2 separate regions of the Homo sapiens genome follow, and region 1 is linked to region 2. Evidence: fine-mapped expression QTL. A gene starts in region 2. The other region holds a variant in brackets. All regions are shown on one strand. Distances are from middle to middle.

Evidence for each region.
Region 1: its variant is fine-mapped to the expression of RPL10A in whole blood (TOPMed, PIP 0.99).

What each region holds. Positions count from the first base shown.
Region 1 is chr6:35,416,677-35,426,914 of GRCh38, forward strand. It overlaps PPARD (peroxisome proliferator activated receptor delta), which reads left to right. Exons shown (of 8, transcript NM_006238.5): 4 at 3,451-3,605; 5 at 5,144-5,282; 6 at 7,270-7,472; 7 at 7,653-8,103; 8 at 9,156-10,238. The coding sequence ends at 9,403. Among named protein-coding and RNA genes, the nearest start is that of FANCE, 31 kb to the right of the region's middle. The variant A/G (reference allele first, on the strand shown) is at 4,026.
Region 2 is chr6:35,465,383-35,473,382 of GRCh38, forward strand. RPL10A (ribosomal protein L10a) reads left to right here and starts at 3,019. Exons shown (of 6, transcript NM_007104.5): 1 at 3,019-3,057; 2 at 3,417-3,491; 3 at 3,565-3,645; 4 at 3,999-4,147; 5 at 4,797-4,969; 6 at 5,198-5,398. The coding sequence starts at 3,053. The coding sequence ends at 5,368. FANCE (FA complementation group E) reads left to right here. Exons shown (of 10, transcript NM_021922.3): 10 at 862-1,720. The coding sequence ends at 963. MIR7111 (microRNA 7111) reads left to right here and starts at 5,126; the gene lies at 5,126-5,197. RefSeq lists enhancers at 2,459-2,508, 2,785-3,341, 3,519-3,588, 3,649-3,748.

The sequences.
Region 1 (10,238 bases), 48 kb before region 2:
GGAAGTGGTGGAACCTTCAGAACCCAGCCCCTAGTATGAGAAGAATTCTGCCATCACCTTTCTTTCAGCAGAGAGGGAAGCAGTCCCCTTCCGTGACAGTCACATGCGTGAGTGATGGCTCCTTCCAATATCCTGCACTTCTTACTGCCCCTTACCTGGCGTTGCTCCACTCTGTCTCATGTTCTAGTTTTCTTATCTCTTTCTCTTTTTTTTTCTATTTTATTTTTTTCCTGTAGGCACAAGTGAGTTACAGTAGGTTAAGTTACACCTTACCTTTCCTTGTTTTTCTTGTTTATTTATTTGTTTATTTATTTTTTTGAGACAAGGTCTTGTTCTGTCACCACAGGCTGGAGTACAGTGGTGCAATCACAGCTCACTGCAACCTGGACCTCCCAGGCTCAAGTCATCTTCCCACATTCAGGCAATCCTCCCACCTCAGCCTCCCAAGTATCTGGGACTACAGGCATGTGCCACCACACCCAGCTAGTTTTTAAAATTTTTTATAGAGATAGAGACAGGGTCTCACTATGTTGCCCAGGCTGGTCTCAAACTCCTGGGCTCAAGTGATCCTCCCGCCTCAGCCTCCCAAAGTGTTGGGATCACAGGTGTGAGCCACTGCACCTGGCCTTTTGTTTTTTTTAAGTAGAGACAGTCTTGCTTTATCACCCAGGCTGGTATACGATGGCACAATCACAGCTCTCCTAGGCTCAAGGATTTTCCTGCCTCAGCCTCCTCAGTAGCTGGCACTATAGGCAGGTGCCACGACACCCAACTATTTTTTTTTTTTTACTTTTTATAGAGACAGGGTCTCACTATGTTGCTCCTGGCCTCAGGTAATCCTCCTGCCTTGGCCTCCCAAAGTACTGCGATTACTGGCGTGAGCCACCACACTCAGCCGAGTGCAATGGCGCGATCTCAGCTCACTGCAGCCTCCGCCCCCCTGCCCCCGGGTTCAAGTGATTCTCCTTCCTTAGCCTCCCGAGTAGCTGGGACTACAGGCATGTGCCACCACGCCCAGCTAATTTTTGTATTTTTAGTAGAGATGGGGTTTCACCATGTTGGCCAGGATGGTTTCAATCTCTTGACCTCGTGATCCGCCCGCGTCGGCCTCCCAAAGTGCTGGGATTACAGGCGTGAGCCACCACACCCAGCCCTGCTGTTACCTCTTTCTTACCTCAGCTATTTGAGGATAGAGTCTAGGTCCTGTCCTGCATATAGAAGGTGCTTATCATGTGTCTTTTGAGTGAACACAGAGGGTGACATTGTCACGTGCAGTGCCAACAGAAACCAAATGACTAGACACCTGCTGACCTTCCATGGCCACAGGGAGGATGAGAAAGGCACCTCCAGGAGGTGTGAATAATCTGAGGGTATTGGCCACTGTGGACAAGACTCGGTGGTGGAAGTGAGCTCAGAGATCCAAAGGGAACGTGAGTAGAGACATGCAGAGTCTCGCAGAGGAAGCAGACGTGCAGGCCACAAAGACAAAATTACAAGAAATGCCCCAACACGAGCATATGCTCACGGACTGCACAGATTCAAGGAGGAAGTGCCAGAAACCCTGCCTGCCCCAGCATCTGCACAGGCATCCACAAAGGGTTTCTGTCATGTTATCTCTTTTTCTTCCAACATCCGGTGCTGTGAGTTTTATTGTCCCTGTTATAAATGCCTCCAGGAGTGGCAGGTCCTGCCCAGCCCCATCAGCCAGTTGGTGCTGCAGTCAGGACACCCAGGCAGCCTGAGGACTGCCAGATGTGCAGAGAGCTATCGCGTGCCTGCTGCGTGCCCAGCACCTCACACAGCTCTCAGTGTCTGACCACGCTGGTGCCCTGGTGGACAAAGTTCCTGCCCTTGTGGCCCTTTTGTCTAGTGGGTGGCTTCCAACAATGAACACACACAGGATATGTCAGGCGGTGACAAAGGCTACTGAGAAGACCAAAGCGGCTTCACCCTCCCAGAGCACAGCTTTTCCCTCCCAGGCCCGAGAGATGTAGGGAGCCCACTGTCCCAGTCTGGGTCAAGAGGAACAGTTACAACACCTTGGAATGACTGAAGTTGGGAGCTAAGGTGCCAGGACAAGACAGGCCATTTTAGGAACCAGAGACTTGTGTTACCCCTAAACCTCACCAGCCAGGAGGGGAGCAGCCCACTGGGTCCTCTCTGCCACAGTTGGGTGCTTCTTGTGCTCCCCCTCCTGTGGTCAGGATAGGGGAAGCAGGCTTTCCTGCTGCCACTCCTAGGACCCAAGGGGAAGCTGGGGGAGTGGGGAGACCATGTGGGAAGGATGGAGTGCACTTTGATTGGTAGCAGGTGGATAGGTACTCCCATGGTGGGGAAATCAAAGTTGCTTGGCCTGTGTAGTAGACAGGTATTACCACAGGCCTGGAAAACATTAGCCTGGGTTTATCTCTGTGGCTTCGGTCCCCCAACATCCCCTTCTACTCAAAATGGCTGATTCTCTGGTTTGGAGGTTTGGCACCTGCTTTTGGGGAGGTTGCTCAGTCATTAGAGAAGAGTGCAGAGGTTGGACGGTCATCATGGCAGAGGTAGGACAGCTGGTATGTGGGGCCATGAAACCAGCTTTGGGCTAGGAGTCAGGAAGCTGAGACTCAGTTCAGGTCCCCTTTCCAAGATGAAGAGATCATTTCCGAGTGTCCAAAGGGCACTGGGAAGAGAATCCTAGCAGTTCTTATGAAATCATCTGACAGCAGATATATCCTGAAGTCATAGCCTTAGCAAACTGCCTTTCTCGCCAACACACTCAACACCCCGTGGTTCAAACATCTATACGTCTGATAGAAAAACTTGGAGAAATTCAGTGTGTTGCTTAATCAATATGACTGATACCTAAGCTGTTCTACTCAAGAAGTTTTCATGGGAATGAACTTGAGCTTCTTGAAGAGATTGTTTACAGCATCCCTGGAGTCTATGCAAGAATAGAACTTCCTGTGGGGGATGGTGGGGAGGCTAGCTCTGCAGAGGTCTACAGTCCTGCAGTTTCTGCAAAACACGTTGCACACATCTCCATATGGGCCACACGGTGGCAACCTCTGAACCAGGAGAGCTGCTTCCTAAGGGCTAAGACCCTCTGTCTGCTTTCTCTCTCTTGCTTTCCTCCCAAAACACAGCCATCCTCCTCCCCACTGCTACCCCATGGTGAGTTCAGCCCAGGAAGCCTCTGACCCAGCCCTGATGGTAATAGCTGCTGTGTACTGGACATCTTCTGTATGTTAGGCTCTGGGAGAAATGCTGTGGAGACTTTTTGCCCATCCTCCCAGAGAAGCTGTCAGTACCCCCTGTTCTAGGTGAAGAAACTGGTCCTCAGAAAGGTTGACTCCCTGAGGCCACACAGCTGTTAAGTGGCTGAGGCGAGGGCTGTGGGGCTGTTCCCACGCCCTGGCTTCCAGGCCTGGCAGCATGTGGAGCTGCCCCTCCATCGTGTGTCCGCAGACCTCTCCCGGAGCTCCTCGCCACCCTCACTGCTGGACCAACTGCAGATGGGCTGTGACGGGGCCTCATGCGGCAGCCTCAACATGGAGTGCCGGGTGTGCGGGGACAAGGCATCGGGCTTCCACTACGGTGTTCATGCATGTGAGGGGTGCAAGGTACGGACTGGGGGGAGCGGTGGCTGGCCACTGAGGCTGTGGTCACATGGTGAATTGACCCTCCACAAAGCTTTCCTTGCCTTGGGGTGGGGCCCTGACTGTACCTATTGCAGAATTCCTGCCCAGGAGGCAGCCAGGCCCTTGTGCTCCAGACCTCAGCTCTGGGCACTGCAGGAGAAGAGGGGGTTCCCTTGTCAAGCCTACCCTGCTGGGCACCTGTGTTGACCCAGCTCTGTGGGTGATTGTGTCCCCCTGGGGACCAGGCAGCTAGGGCAGAATGAGGGTCTTGGGCTGAGCCATCGTCTTACCTGAGGTCTGGGTTTCTTGTTTCTCAAGGCTCAAAGCGGGCTCTGAGAAAAAAGGACAGACATTTGTTTTTCCAGTGATATTTGTGGGTCCTTCCTAACTTCACACCCATCA[A/G]AATCTCACAGATTATTTTATTGAATCACCACCTCACAAATACACAGAACCAGATACATTTATGAAGAAATCAAGTTAGCCGTGAGACAATCTTATGTTACCAAACTAACAAAGAAGCTTTTTTTTTTTTTTTTTTTTTTTTTGAGATGGAATCTCGATCTGTCGCCCAGGCTGGAGTGCAGTGGCGTGATCTCAGTTAACTGCAACCTCCACCTCCCGGGTTCAGGAGATTCTCCTGCCTGAGCCTCCAGAGTAGCTGGGATTACAGGTACATGCCACCATGCCTGGCTAATTTTTGTATTTTTAGTAGAGATGGGGTTTCACCACATTGGCCAGGCTGGTCTCGAACTCCTGACCTCAGGTGATCCACCTGCCTTGGCCTCCCAAAGTGCTAGGATTACAGGTGTGAACCACTGTGCCTGACCCAATTTTTGTAGTTTTAATAGGGACGGGGTTTCACCATGTTGGCTAGGCTGGTCTTGAACTCCTGACCTCAGGTGATCCACCCACCTCGGCCTCCCAAAGTGCTGGGATTACAGGCGTGAGCCACTGTGTCCAGCCCCAACAAAGAAGCTTTAGGACTTCTTTAGACATTTAAAATAGTTGTGTTTTTTTTTTGTTTTGTTTTGTTTTATTTTGTTTTGTTTTGTTTTGAGATGGAGTTTCACTCTTGTTGTCCAGGCTGGAGTGTAATGGCGCGATCTTGGCTGACTGCAACCTCCACCTCCCGGGTTCAAGCGATTCCCCTGCCTCAGCCTCCTGAGTAGCTGGGATTACAGGGGTGTGCCACTACACCCAGCTAATTTTTCTGTATTTTTAGTAGAGACGGGGTTTCACCATGTTGGCCAGGCTGGTCTCAAACTCCTGACCTCAGGTGATCCGCCCACCTCGGCCTCTCAAAGTGCTGGGATTACAGGCGTGAGCCACTGTGCCTGAACTAAAATAGTTTTAATTAAAGTTTTAGAATTACTTTCCTTCTCCATCTCCCCTCCAAAAAAATTTCTTCTCGTTACTTCCAAATGTCAGGAGTGTTTACACCTTATACATAATCGGGCCCTTTGGCACAGCCTCCCTCCCACCTCCTGGTGGCCTTTCCTCACCTGTTCTTGGTGCTTCAGGGCTTCTTCCGTCGTACGATCCGCATGAAGCTGGAGTACGAGAAGTGTGAGCGCAGCTGCAAGATTCAGAAGAAGAACCGCAACAAGTGCCAGTACTGCCGCTTCCAGAAGTGCCTGGCACTGGGCATGTCACACAACGGTGAGAGCTGACCAGGGCAACTCACGGGCTGCTGGCTCCACACAGCCTGAAACCAAGGTCCAGGGAGCCCTTGGGGCAGCCTAGAGGGGGCACCTGTAGAGCAGTGCCTGGCGCACAGTAAGCACCATGGCTGTTGGCTGTTGGCTTTGCTGATCTGGACCTTGGATCTTAGAGCCTAAGACCTGCCACTTCCTCAGACTGCCAGCATCTACCATGGGTCCCAGGCGTGGGGTAGTGTTTACCTCCCTATACCTGAGGTTTACGCATTCTGGCCCAGAAGGGAACTGATAATTGATACCAGCTTGAACAATTTGGGGAACACCAGTCCCAGAAACTCAAGCCTGTCTCAGATGACCTGACACAGCATGAAAGCTACTGCCAAGGCCAGGTGGCCCTTCTTGGTTATAGAAGGCAGGCAGTAACCAGTAAGTAACCACATTTGTCAACTGCCAGGAGCCAGGCAGAAGTTTCTTGGAGGTCACCCACTCCCAGGAGACAGAGCCTTCTCTGCCCTGTGCTCCAGGCCTCCTGCAGAGCCTTGTCTTCGGACCCCAGGGTAGGATATTGCAAAGCCCACCTGTCCCCTCAGTACCTCTCTGAGTAAGACCCCTAGAGGACAGGGGAGAGCCTCTTGTGATCTCTACAGGCAGGTTAGCTGCTTGGCCAGCTTTTACCCAGGGATGCCCTAACTGCCTTGCATCTTAGAGGGTAGCAGTACCTGAGCCCTCCATTTGCGGCTCTCCTGGGTAATGGGGTCTGGCAGGTCTGGGTTTGACTCCTTTCTTAGGAAATCTCGGAACTGACTGAATCCCTCTCCTTACGCTAACTCCAGGAGAAGTCGAATTCGTATCCTACTCAATTACTAATGACAACAATTTTTGAGTGCTTACTATGTGAGGATTCTTATTTAATTGATCTAATAACTCAGTAAGTTTTAAAAAGTATTAGCCTCATTTTTCTGATTAAAAAAGAAAAGTGGCCAGGTGCAGTGGCTCACACCTGTAATCCCATCACTTTGGGAGGCCAAGGTAGGAGGATTGCTTGAGTCCAGGAGTTTAAGACCAGCCTGAGCAACATAGTGAGACCTCATCTCTACAAAAAAAAAAAAAAAAAAAAAAAAAATTTAGCCAGGCTTGGTGGCGTGCACCTGTAGTCCCAGCTACTCAGAAGGCTGAGGCGGGAGGATCACTTTAGCCCAGGAGGTCAAGGCTGCAGTGAGCCATGATTGTGCCACTGTACTCCAGCCTGGATGAGAGTGAGACCCTGTCTCAAAACAAAAAAAGAAAAAGGCTGGGCATGGTGGCACATGCCTATAATCCTAGCACTTTGGGAGGCCAAGGCGAGTGGATCACCTGAGGTCAGCAGTTCAAGACCAGCCTGGCCAAGATGGTGAAACTCTGTCTCTACTAAAAAAAAAATACAAAAATTAGCCAGGCATGGTGGTGGGCGCCTATAATCCCAGCTACTCGGGAGGCTGAGACAGAGAATTGCTTGAACCCGGGAGGCAGAGGTTGCAGTGAGCCGAGATCGTGCCACTGCACTCCAGCCTGGGAGACAGAGCGAGACTCTGTCTCAAAAAAAAAAAAAGAAAAGAAAAAGAAAAGTGAAGGAGTCTGCCCCAAGTCACAAAGCTAGTAAACTGCTGAGCTGGAACTCAAGCCCAGGCCTTTGTCACCAAAGTCTGTCTTACCCCAGCTAGCGTAGCTCAGTCACTCAGTAAGTTAGAGTCCTTGTGTGCTGGGCACTGTGAACAAAACAGACAAAATCACTGCTCTTGCAAAGATACACCAAAAAAAAAAAAAAATCACATCTTGTGGAGCTTGCGATCTGGAGGGGCCACCCCATCATTCCTACCTTGCTGACTCTAGAGCTTCTGGGGGCCTTAGGCTCCAAAAGGATTTGGCCCATGCACCTGTAAAGGGATGGGGATGTCAGAGGTGCTGGGGCCTGCCTGGGCTCCTTGCTGACTGCCCCCTTCCCTGTGCAGCTATCCGTTTTGGTCGGATGCCGGAGGCTGAGAAGAGGAAGCTGGTGGCAGGGCTGACTGCAAACGAGGGGAGCCAGTACAACCCACAGGTGGCCGACCTGAAGGCCTTCTCCAAGCACATCTACAATGCCTACCTGAAAAACTTCAACATGACCAAAAAGAAGGCCCGCAGCATCCTCACCGGCAAAGCCAGCCACACGGCGGTGAGTGTTGCTGCTGCTTGGCCTGGCAGCATCCTGGGCTCTGGGTCCCACTGCCGCCTGCCTGACTCCGGGAGAGCCAGGCCTTCTCCCTCCCTCAACTTCATGGTGCAGGCAAGGGACATGGGGAGCACAGGGTGGGGGTCTCCCGAGGCCTGATCTCTAACGGGGCCTGGTTTTCAGCCCTTTGTGATCCACGACATCGAGACATTGTGGCAGGCAGAGAAGGGGCTGGTGTGGAAGCAGTTGGTGAATGGCCTGCCTCCCTACAAGGAGATCAGCGTGCACGTCTTCTACCGCTGCCAGTGCACCACAGTGGAGACCGTGCGGGAGCTCACTGAGTTCGCCAAGAGCATCCCCAGCTTCAGCAGCCTCTTCCTCAACGACCAGGTTACCCTTCTCAAGTATGGCGTGCACGAGGCCATCTTCGCCATGCTGGCCTCTATCGTCAACAAGGACGGGCTGCTGGTAGCCAACGGCAGTGGCTTTGTCACCCGTGAGTTCCTGCGCAGCCTCCGCAAACCCTTCAGTGATATCATTGAGCCTAAGTTTGAATTTGCTGTCAAGTTCAACGCCCTGGAACTTGATGACAGTGACCTGGCCCTATTCATTGCGGCCATCATTCTGTGTGGAGGTGAGTGAGAGTGGGGCAGGTGGGCTGGCCTGGCACACCCAGTCGTCCTGGGGGTTGGCCCTCACTGCAGGGCACTGTGCCTGAGCTCTGACAGTGTGGGGAAGTGTCCCTGTGATCTTGGCAGTGGAACATGCAAGGCACTGACTGAGCATGCAGGATCAGCTCCATCTCATTATGTACGTAGATAGAGGTGGAGACAGGAAAAAGACTAAGCCAGACGTGGTGGCTCACACCTGTAATCCCAGCACTTTGGCAGGCCGAGGCGGGTGGATCACTTGAGGTCAGGAGTTCGAAACCAGCCTGGCCAACATGGTGAAACCCCGTCTCTACTAAAAATACAAAAAATTAGCCAGATGTGGTGGCACGCGCCTGTAATCCCAGCTACTTGGGAGGCTGAGCCAGGAGAATCGCTTGAACCCGAGAGGTGGAGGTTGCAGTGAGCCAAAATCCCACCACTGCACTCCAGCCTGGGTGACAGAGTGAGACCCTGTCTCAAAAAAAAGGAAAAGGACTAACAGGCAGTATGCTGTCATGTTAATGTGGGGTGGAAAAATTGTCTGCATTTTTTCTGCATTTTTAAAATTCCAACACAATAAATACAATAATAACTATGCTAACTAACAGTGGTCTAGAGCTTACTTCATGCCAGGCACTGTTCTTTTCATCGATGATGACTCACTTGATCCTCACAACAACCCTGTGCAGGAAGAATGTTTTGTGTCTCCATTTTACACATCAGAGAGGCTGAATGACCTGCCTATAGCCTCACAGGCAGACACAGGATTTGAATTAAGCATTGAGTCTCTTAACCACAATACTACGTTGCCTAATCGGGGGGGAGGTGGGGACAAATTGGCAAAAAACAAAAGAAGTGGATTAAGACCAGGGGTAGGGAGATTAGAACACCCAGTGGAGCATTGCTGATGGGACAGGGCTTGGTCTGTCACGGCCAAGGAGGCCTGCCGTCCCCTGGGCCAAGTCACCTCTTGGGGTGGAAGTAGGGGAGCTCCACTGCCTTTCTGAGCTCCCTGGCGTGCCCTGTGTCCCCACAGACCGGCCAGGCCTCATGAACGTTCCACGGGTGGAGGCTATCCAGGACACCATCCTGCGTGCCCTCGAATTCCACCTGCAGGCCAACCACCCTGATGCCCAGTACCTCTTCCCCAAGCTGCTGCAGAAGATGGCTGACCTGCGGCAACTGGTCACCGAGCACGCCCAGATGATGCAGCGGATCAAGAAGACCGAAACCGAGACCTCGCTGCACCCTCTGCTCCAGGAGATCTACAAGGACATGTACTAACGGCGGCACCCAGGCCTCCCTGCAGACTCCAATGGGGCCAGCACTGGAGGGGCCCACCCACATGACTTTTCCATTGACCAGCCCTTGAGCACCCGGCCTGGAGCAGCAGAGTCCCACGATCGCCCTCAGACACATGACACCCACGGCCTCTGGCTCCCTGTGCCCTCTCTCCCGCTTCCTCCAGCCAGCTCTCTTCCTGTCTTTGTTGTCTCCCTCTTTCTCAGTTCCTCTTTCTTTTCTAATTCCTGTTGCTCTGTTTCTTCCTTTCTGTAGGTTTCTCTCTTCCCTTCTCCCTTGCCCTCCCTTTCTCTCTCCACCCCCCACGTCTGTCCTCCTTTCTTATTCTGTGAGATGTTTTGTATTATTTCACCAGCAGCATAGAACAGGACCTCTGCTTTTGCACACCTTTTCCCCAGGAGCAGAAGAGAGTGGGGCCTGCCCTCTGCCCCATCATTGCACCTGCAGGCTTAGGTCCTCACTTCTGTCTCCTGTCTTCAGAGCAAAAGACTTGAGCCATCCAAAGAAACACTAAGCTCTCTGGGCCTGGGTTCCAGGGAAGGCTAAGCATGGCCTGGACTGACTGCAGCCCCCTATAGTCATGGGGTCCCTGCTGCAAAGGACAGTGGGCAGGAGGCCCCAGGCTGAGAGCCAGATGCCTCCCCAAGACTGTCATTGCCCCTCCGATGCTGAGGCCACCCACTGACCCAACTGATCCTGCTCCAGCAGCACACCTCAGCCCCACTGACACCCAGTGTCCTTCCATCTTCACACTGGTTTGCCAGGCCAATGTTGCTGATGGCCCCCTGCACTGGCCGCTGGACGGCACTCTCCCAGC
Region 2 (8,000 bases):
GCCAGGCTGGTCTCCAATGCCTGACCTCACATGATCCACCTGCCTCGGCCTCCCAAAGTGCTGGGATTACAGGCATGAACCATGGTGCCCAGCCAGGAGCTTTATTTTTAACTTTATCTTGAAAGTCAGGTATTCTGGGCTATTGCCTTTGTACCCTTATGTCGGGGGTGTTACAGGCCCATTTGATGATTTGATGTAGACCCTCCCAGAAAGATGGAAGTATGAACATGCTTCTGTTGCACAGTTTCAGGGGAGCTCCTGAATCCTCTGGAGATCTAGGCAGAAGGACCTCCAATGTGAGGCATCAGGAGTCATTCAAGGGCCTTCAACCTGGGAGTAACTTCATCAGATCTGTACTATTAAGAAGCATCTGGCTTCTGTGAGGAGTGGGATTGGAGGGTGAAGATACAGGGCCTGAGACCTGTCAGGAGGTTGTAGCAACAGGGCAGAAAGAGAAAGTGTGATCCAAAAGGAAGGTAGCTGTCACAGTAGAGTGTCTGTGAACCTCAGTTTTCTCCTCTGTAAAATGGGAGGGTCTTGAGGATTATATACAGCAATGCATATATATGATGTATATGTATGTTTGTATATGGATTGATGCATATAAAGTGCTGCCACATAGTAAACACACAATGATTGTCAACTGTTACTAATGTGGCCGGCTTAGTAAATTGTGCAGCTAGTATTTGGCTCCAGGTCTACCTCGTTAACCATGGTGAAATAATGAGATTAGATTGCTCAGGAGTCTCCTCCTCTTTCCATCCTCCTGGCCTCCTCTCTCCTCAATAGAGCCCCTGGGGTAGTCGGGAGACGGGAGGGATCAGTTGCTGGAGTCCTGACATGATTTTTCCTTCTCCCCAGATCACTGAGACCCAGAGGCTGGGCCTGGCTATGGCCCTAGAACCTAACACCACCTTCCTGAGGAAGTCCCTGAAGGCCGCCTTGAAACATTTGGGCCCCTGACCATCCACCAAGGGACCACCCTCTTGGTGCTCCATCACCAGCTTCCTGAAGGGCATTTCTTTCTTCACCACCTTGTCTTGAGCCCTAGCCTGAGGATAAAGGCTGAGCCTGGCCATCCCAGATTGCAACTGCCTCCCTGTTACAGGCTGCATAGGGAATATTGGCTTCCCAGCCAGCAGGGAGGCTCCTGGGCTAAGGGAGCTCAGCTATATTTTCTTTTTCATTTCTTTTGTTTTTGAGAGAAGGTATTGCTCTGTCATCCAGGCTGGAGTGCAGTGATGCGATTGATCATGGCTCACTGTAACCTCTGCCTCCCAGGCTCGATCCTCCCATGTCAGCCTCCCAAGTAGCTGGGACTACATGCACATGACACTATGCCCAGCTAATTTTTTATTTTGTAGATAATATGCTGGTCAGGGCTGGTCTTGAACTCCTGAGCTCAAGTGATCTTCCTGCCTTGGCACCCAAAGTGTTGAGATTTACAGGTGTGAGCCACCACACCAGGCCAGAGCTATATTTCCAAAGGCTGCTGGCCCCAGGCACACTCCTCATCAATTCTCAGGCTGCAGGGACAAACTTTCCGATAGGGCTCAGTAGGATCAAGCCGACCCAGAGTGGGCATGGGATGCTCCAGGAGGTCTGGGGTACCAGTGGGCTCAGATGAAGCTCTTGTGCTCATGTATATTATGACCTTCTGTGTTTTTGTTTCTGACTTGAATAATTTATCAATGGTGTTGAATAAAAGCAAGTTCAATAATGTCTTTTTCTTTTTTTTTTTTCGAGTCTGAGTCTCGCACTGTCGCCCAGGCTGGAATGCAATGGCATGATCTCGGCTCACTGCAACCTCTGCCTCCCCAGTTCAAGCGATTCTCCTGCCTCAGCCTCTTGAGTAGCTGGGATTACAGGCGCATGCCACCATGACCCGCTCATTTTTGTATTTTTAGTAGAGACGAGGCTGGTCTCAAACTCCTGACCTCAGGTGATCCGCCTGCCTCCCAAAGTGCTGGGATTACAGGCGTGAGCCACCACGCCTGGCCAATGTCTTATTAGAAGCAGTACCTTCCTTCCCATGAATTCTGGGTATTGAGCCCATCCGCACCCCCTCCACTTCCCTGCTCAATGACAAGGAACATCTTTTTCCTGGTGAGGGGAAGGGTGTAGGGTATCTTATTCACCCTCTGAGGGCCAAATAATGTGTAATACCACCCACCCCATCCTATAGGAGCTGCCCCCACCAGGCAGGGGGGTAGGTGAGAATGGGCATCTTAAAGGTGGGAGTGACTCAGTCTGGAGTTCGGGAAGGGTTTTGGGCAGATGAATCCGAGGAGAGATCTGAAGGGCTCTGGGGGTTACTGTGGCTAAGAGGATGAGACCCATTGGACAGAGGAAAGAGCAGAGAAGACACCTTATGGGTGTGCAGTGCTGTGTGCCTGTTTTACATCCTTGTATTCCTGTAGCACCTGGCTAGACGCCTTATTCATAGCAGTCACACTTAAAACGTAGATGTTATCAAATTAACTATCAAGTGAAAGTTCACTTAAGGACTTTCCCAGCTCTTCCCCTCTGCAGGCGTTGAAAGGACAGGAACAGAACTTTCCGGACACTTCCCTTACCACGAGTCCACGTTAGAGCAAGGTGCTGAGGGAGGGAGGTCGGGCCAGGCTTCCTTTTGAGAACATAAGCTGGTGCGGAGGGCGCGAGGGGAGAGGGGTTTGAGGGACAAGCGTGCCGGAATCCACGCTGTCAGTGAACATCACTGGGCTGTACCAGTACGTGTGACTACCGAAGCTCGAGCCCCGAACCCAGCCGCTTCCCTAGGGGTCCAGCAGCAGCGGGCGCGAATCGGCACATTACCGGGGGACCGCGGGGCGCTCAGGACTGCGACAACTCTGTGGGTTACCGCGCCGGCCTAGCGGCCCAGCGACGCCCCCCAGCGGCCAGAGAAGGCCGCGCTTCTCGGGGTTGGCCCACCCAACCGCTCTGCGGGTAGGACCGAGGAGCAAAGCATTATCGCGAGATCAGGGCCACTATTTGAGCGCATGCGCAAGACATGCTAGTCTCTTTTCCGGTTAGCGCGGCGTGAGAAGCCATGAGGTGAGTTGGTCCTGAAAGCCCTATCCGCGTTCATCCGCGCCTTCAGGTGCCCCGCCGAGGGTTCGGATCCTGTAGGCCGCGCCGCGGACCCTTGCGCCACCTGCGCCGCGGGGCATTTCTCAAGGCGGGTCGGCCTGCGGGTCGCCCTTCCTACCAGGTCCGATCACTGAGAGCCTCCCTCTTCCACCGGGGCTTGGGTCTGGGTCTGAGCTCCCGTCGCTCTACTTGGTGTCCGGAATCTACGGGGGAGTCCGCCGTGGGCCGCCCGCCCGTCTCGAAGCCTAGACCTCGGAGGCTTCCAGGCAGTCCGAGCGTGTGGACTCCGCGGCCCTGAGCGCCCTGTCGCTTCTCTCCCGCAGCAGCAAAGTCTCTCGCGACACCCTGTACGAGGCGGTGCGGGAAGTCCTGCACGGGAACCAGCGCAAGCGCCGCAAGTGAGTGCCGACCCTGGGGCACGGCGCGGGTGGCGAGGGCCGGCGGGTGCTTAACCCCCCTCCTCTCTCGAAGGTTCCTGGAGACGGTGGAGTTGCAGATCAGCTTGAAGAACTATGATCCCCAGAAGGACAAGCGCTTCTCGGGCACCGTCAGGTTGGCACCGTTCTGATCCCACCCAGCCCTCAGTGCCCCCGTGCTTGCCCCTCCCCTGCAGGCTCCCGCTGAGCCGGAGGCGGGCACGTCGGTACTGATGTGCTAGGGTAGTTCAGACCCCCTGCTCCGGGCAGGCGCGGCTGGACGGACCCCCACCCTGGGTCTTAAAACATGAGGGGAGGCGTGGGTAGGCCTCGGCCGAGCCCGCCGGCCAGCCTGAGAAGCCAGGCTGGCTGCTGGTGAATGTGAACGCTCCGGGTAAGGCTCGGTGGCTGCTGCGGTCCCAGACCCTTCACCGGCCCTTGGGACCCAGGGCTAGGCGTAACCTGTTGGTGCTGTCCCCCAAAACGCAGGCTTAAGTCCACTCCCCGCCCTAAGTTCTCTGTGTGTGTCCTGGGGGACCAGCAGCACTGTGACGAGGCTAAGGCCGTGGATATCCCCCACATGGACATCGAGGCGCTGAAAAAACTCAACAAGAATAAAAAACTGGTCAAGAAGCTGGGTGAGTCCGGCCGCTGTGGTTTTGCATGTGAGATGTGTGGTGGGGGCGGTAGAAAGGCTTTTCTGCCATTTTCGATTTTTAAATGATGAGGGGCCTAGAATAGCAAAGGATCGGCGGTGGTTGCCTAGCTTGCCTGAGTGCTGTTTTAGCTTTGGGGTGGTTTGATGTTTGTATTGCTATGAGGATTCCAGTTGATGAGGGAGGCCAGGCATTGTAAGTTGACCAGCCAGGTGCTGGTGAACTATGATTTGGAAATCTTTACGCTGCGTTGTTTAGGCAGTGGCATTAGACTGCTTTTACAGGTAGGAAGCAGACATTCCCAGTTGTCACGTGTCCAGGGTCCACAGCTAAGAAATAGGCAGAATTCGAGCCCAGGCAGTCTTGACCAGAGCATCCGTTGTACAGCGGTTATGCCATGGATCATGGGTCAGCCTGGTTTTCTGAGAGCATGTTTTGGGACCAGTGAAGGTCCAGAGGACTTTCTGGAAACCGTTTGGGCTAGGGAAAAGACTGAGGCGGGGTCTTAGAGAGGGTGCTGCTTGGAGGTCACTTACATGATTGATTCAAGTGCGTTTCTGGCCTGCCACATTTGAGGTGTGCCTTGGTGACCAGGTTCTAAGCAATGCCAATGGCTTCCTCTCTCTATCAGCCAAGAAGTATGATGCGTTTTTGGCCTCAGAGTCTCTGATCAAGCAGATTCCACGAATCCTCGGCCCAGGTTTAAATAAGGCAGGAAAGTTCCCTTCCCTGCTCACACACAACGAAAACATGGTGGCCAAAGTGGATGAGGTGAAGTCCACAATCAAGTTCCAAATGAAGAAGGTGAGTGGGTCTGGCGGGTTGCTATGGGTGAAGGTGTTGGCAGGGTCTAAATCTTATCCAAGTCTCTAAATATGCCAGTAAGAGCACCCACCAGGATTGAAACTTTTGGAGTAACCCTGGTCTTGGCCCGGGTCCAAGTACCTGCTCACCAGGCCACTGGGGGAGGAAGGACAGGCCATCTGCTATTCGTCCACCAACCTGACTTGATCCTCTCTTCCCTCCTCCCAGGTGTTATGTCTGGCTGTAGCTGTTGGTCACGTGAAGATGACAGACGATGAGCTTGTGTATAACATTCACCTGGCTGTCAACTTCTTGGTGTCATTGCTCAAGAAAAACTGGCAGAATGTCCGGGCCTTATATATCAAGAGCACCATGGGCAAGCCCCAGCGCCTATATTAAGGCACATTTGAATAAATTCTATTACCAGTTCCCTCTGTCTGCCTGTGATTGAGGGTGGGGGGTGGTTTGTCAGCTGACAAGTGAGGGCCTTGGCACTGCTGATGGCTAGTTGTGTAGTTTGTCACTTTGATGATGGATAGTTGGGTACTATAGGGAAGAGGATGTTTTTCTGCCATCAAAATCAGGCAGTCTTGCATATGTGATAGGGTTGCTAACGGCATTGAAGCTTTTTGACAGGATTGGTCCATGTAAATTTAAAATAAGGATTTTAGTCAGCATTTCTGTGTTAAGAAGACCACATGTGGAGTATCCTATGCTTTGGGTTAGTAATGAGTAAATGTTAAGGAAAACAAGGCACAGCAAACCAGTACAAAAGTATAATTAATGGACCTTGTTTTTTTTTTTTAAATGGAGTTTGTAGCCCAGGCTGGAGCGCAATGGTGCGATCTCAATCTGTGGGTCCCAGTTCAAGCAATTCTGCCTCGGCCTCTCAAAGTGCTGGGATTACAGGTGTGAGTCACCATCCCCAGCCAGATCCTGTTAACAGTATTCCAGGTCCTTGCCCCAGGCAGGCTAAGCCCCCTCCTTTTCTGAGGCATTTCCCTGTTGGCAGTTCTTGCCTCTAGCACCCAGTACTGCTTTAACCTTTGACTAAAATGAGCTTAGTTTGACTTTGGTAAATAGGGGAACAAGTTCATCCCTGCTTTTTTTTTTTTTGAGTCTTCGCTCCATTCCCCAGGCTGGAGTATAAGTGGCGTGATCTGGGCTCACTGCAAGCTCCGCCTCCTGGGTTCATGCCATTCTGCCTCAGCCTCCCGAGTAGCTGGGACTACAAGCGCCCGCCACTATGCCCGGCTAGTTTTTTGGTATTTTTAGTAGAGACAGGGTTTCACCGTGTTAGCCAGGAGGGTCTCCATCTCCTGACCTTGTGATCCGCCCGTCTGGGCCTCCCAAAGTTCTGGGATTACAGGCGTGAGCCACCACCCCCGGCTGAGAACGGTTATTTTAAAGCATAAAAGCAGTGCTTAACAATGCTGTATTTTGGCTGGGTGCGGTGGCTCACGCCTGTGATCCCAGCTACTTGGGAGGCCGAGGCAGAACTGTTTGAACCTGGGAGGTGGAGGTTGCAGTGAGCTGAGATCGCACCACTGCACTCTAGCCTGGGCAACAGCAAGAGTCCATCGGTGGTATGTGTGGGAGTCGGGGGGTCGGGGGAGATGCTGCATTTCTCAAAACAAGCCTTCCCTGTCCCTGAAATGAAGAACACAGGGTTTTTACTCTGAGCAGCTTTTGCTTTTTTAGCTTTTAAGAAGTTAACAGCACTTTCTTGGTAAGAAAGGTATAAAACCTAATGAGGATGAGCAGTGAATTTTGGTTCTCAAGACAGGTCCAGCCAGCTACTTGTTGTGGTTATTTTTCTTTTCTTTGGGCTTTTCTGTATTTTCTGAACCTCCTGTGATCTTTGCAATCAGAAGGAAAAGGGAAACTTCAGCTTAAAGCAAAAGCAATTATCTGAAGGCTCGTGTGCTAATCGCCCACAGATGTAATCGGTGTCCAGTGCAGCCTCCAGGAATTTCTGCTTCCTGGACCCCTCCTACCTACTGGGGCTCGGTACCCTCCCACCCATCCAGCAGGTGACAGTTTGGGGCTCCTAGTGGGATACCAGGCACACAACGTGGAGTCAGGCAGACCAGGTTGGAATCCTGATGTTGGCAGTGACTGGCTGTGAGAAGTACATTTAACATGTCTCAAGTTCTCCCGATCTGTTAACTTGAAGGTTGGACTAGAATGACCTAGAAGACTAGATTCTAGAGGGTTGCCAGATTTAGCAAATAAAAATGCAGGATGTCCTTAGTATTGCATGGAACATACTTAAATCATCTGTTTATCTGAAATTAAAATTTAACTGGGTCATCCCCATTCTGTTTAACCCTTTATTCTAGAGTCTCATCTCTAGCCTGCCACCCTTAGAGCAAATACAGTTTCATCCTGTGACAAGTGAGTCCAATCAGTTCACCCATATTTAACTGCAGGAGAAAAAGCTAGAACAGCCTCTTTGGGAAAATGTTTGCTTAAAGCTTTTTTTTTTTTTTTTTGAGACGGAGTTTAGCTCTGTCACCCAGGCTGGAGTGCAGTGGTGCAATCTCGGCTCACTGCAATGCAACCTCCACCTCCCGGGTTCAAGCTATTCTCCTGCCTTAGCCTCCTGAGTATTTGGGACTACAGGCGTGTGCCACCACACCTGCCTAATTTTTTGCATTTTTTTTTTTTTAGTAGAGACGGGGTTTCACCATGTTAGCCAGGATGGTCTTGATCTGACCTCGTGATCCACCCGCCTCAGCCTCTCAAAGTGCTGGGATTACAGGTGTGAGCCACTGTGCCCGGCCGCTGAAAGTCTTGAACTATCTCTGCCCCAGCCCTCTAAGGACTGTGGTCTGTCCCTACTGTGGACAGGTGGCTCAGGACAGCAGGGCTTTCCAGGCAGACATGGGTAGGTCAGCAGTTGTCACCTGGGGAGAGCGCTTACCCTCCTTGAGTCACTTAGGGTCAGTTGCTAACCCCTAGGCTTTGGTCTGTGTTGTGCTGGCTTATCAGGGGGCCCTGGAGCTTCCATCTCAGTCAATGTGCGACC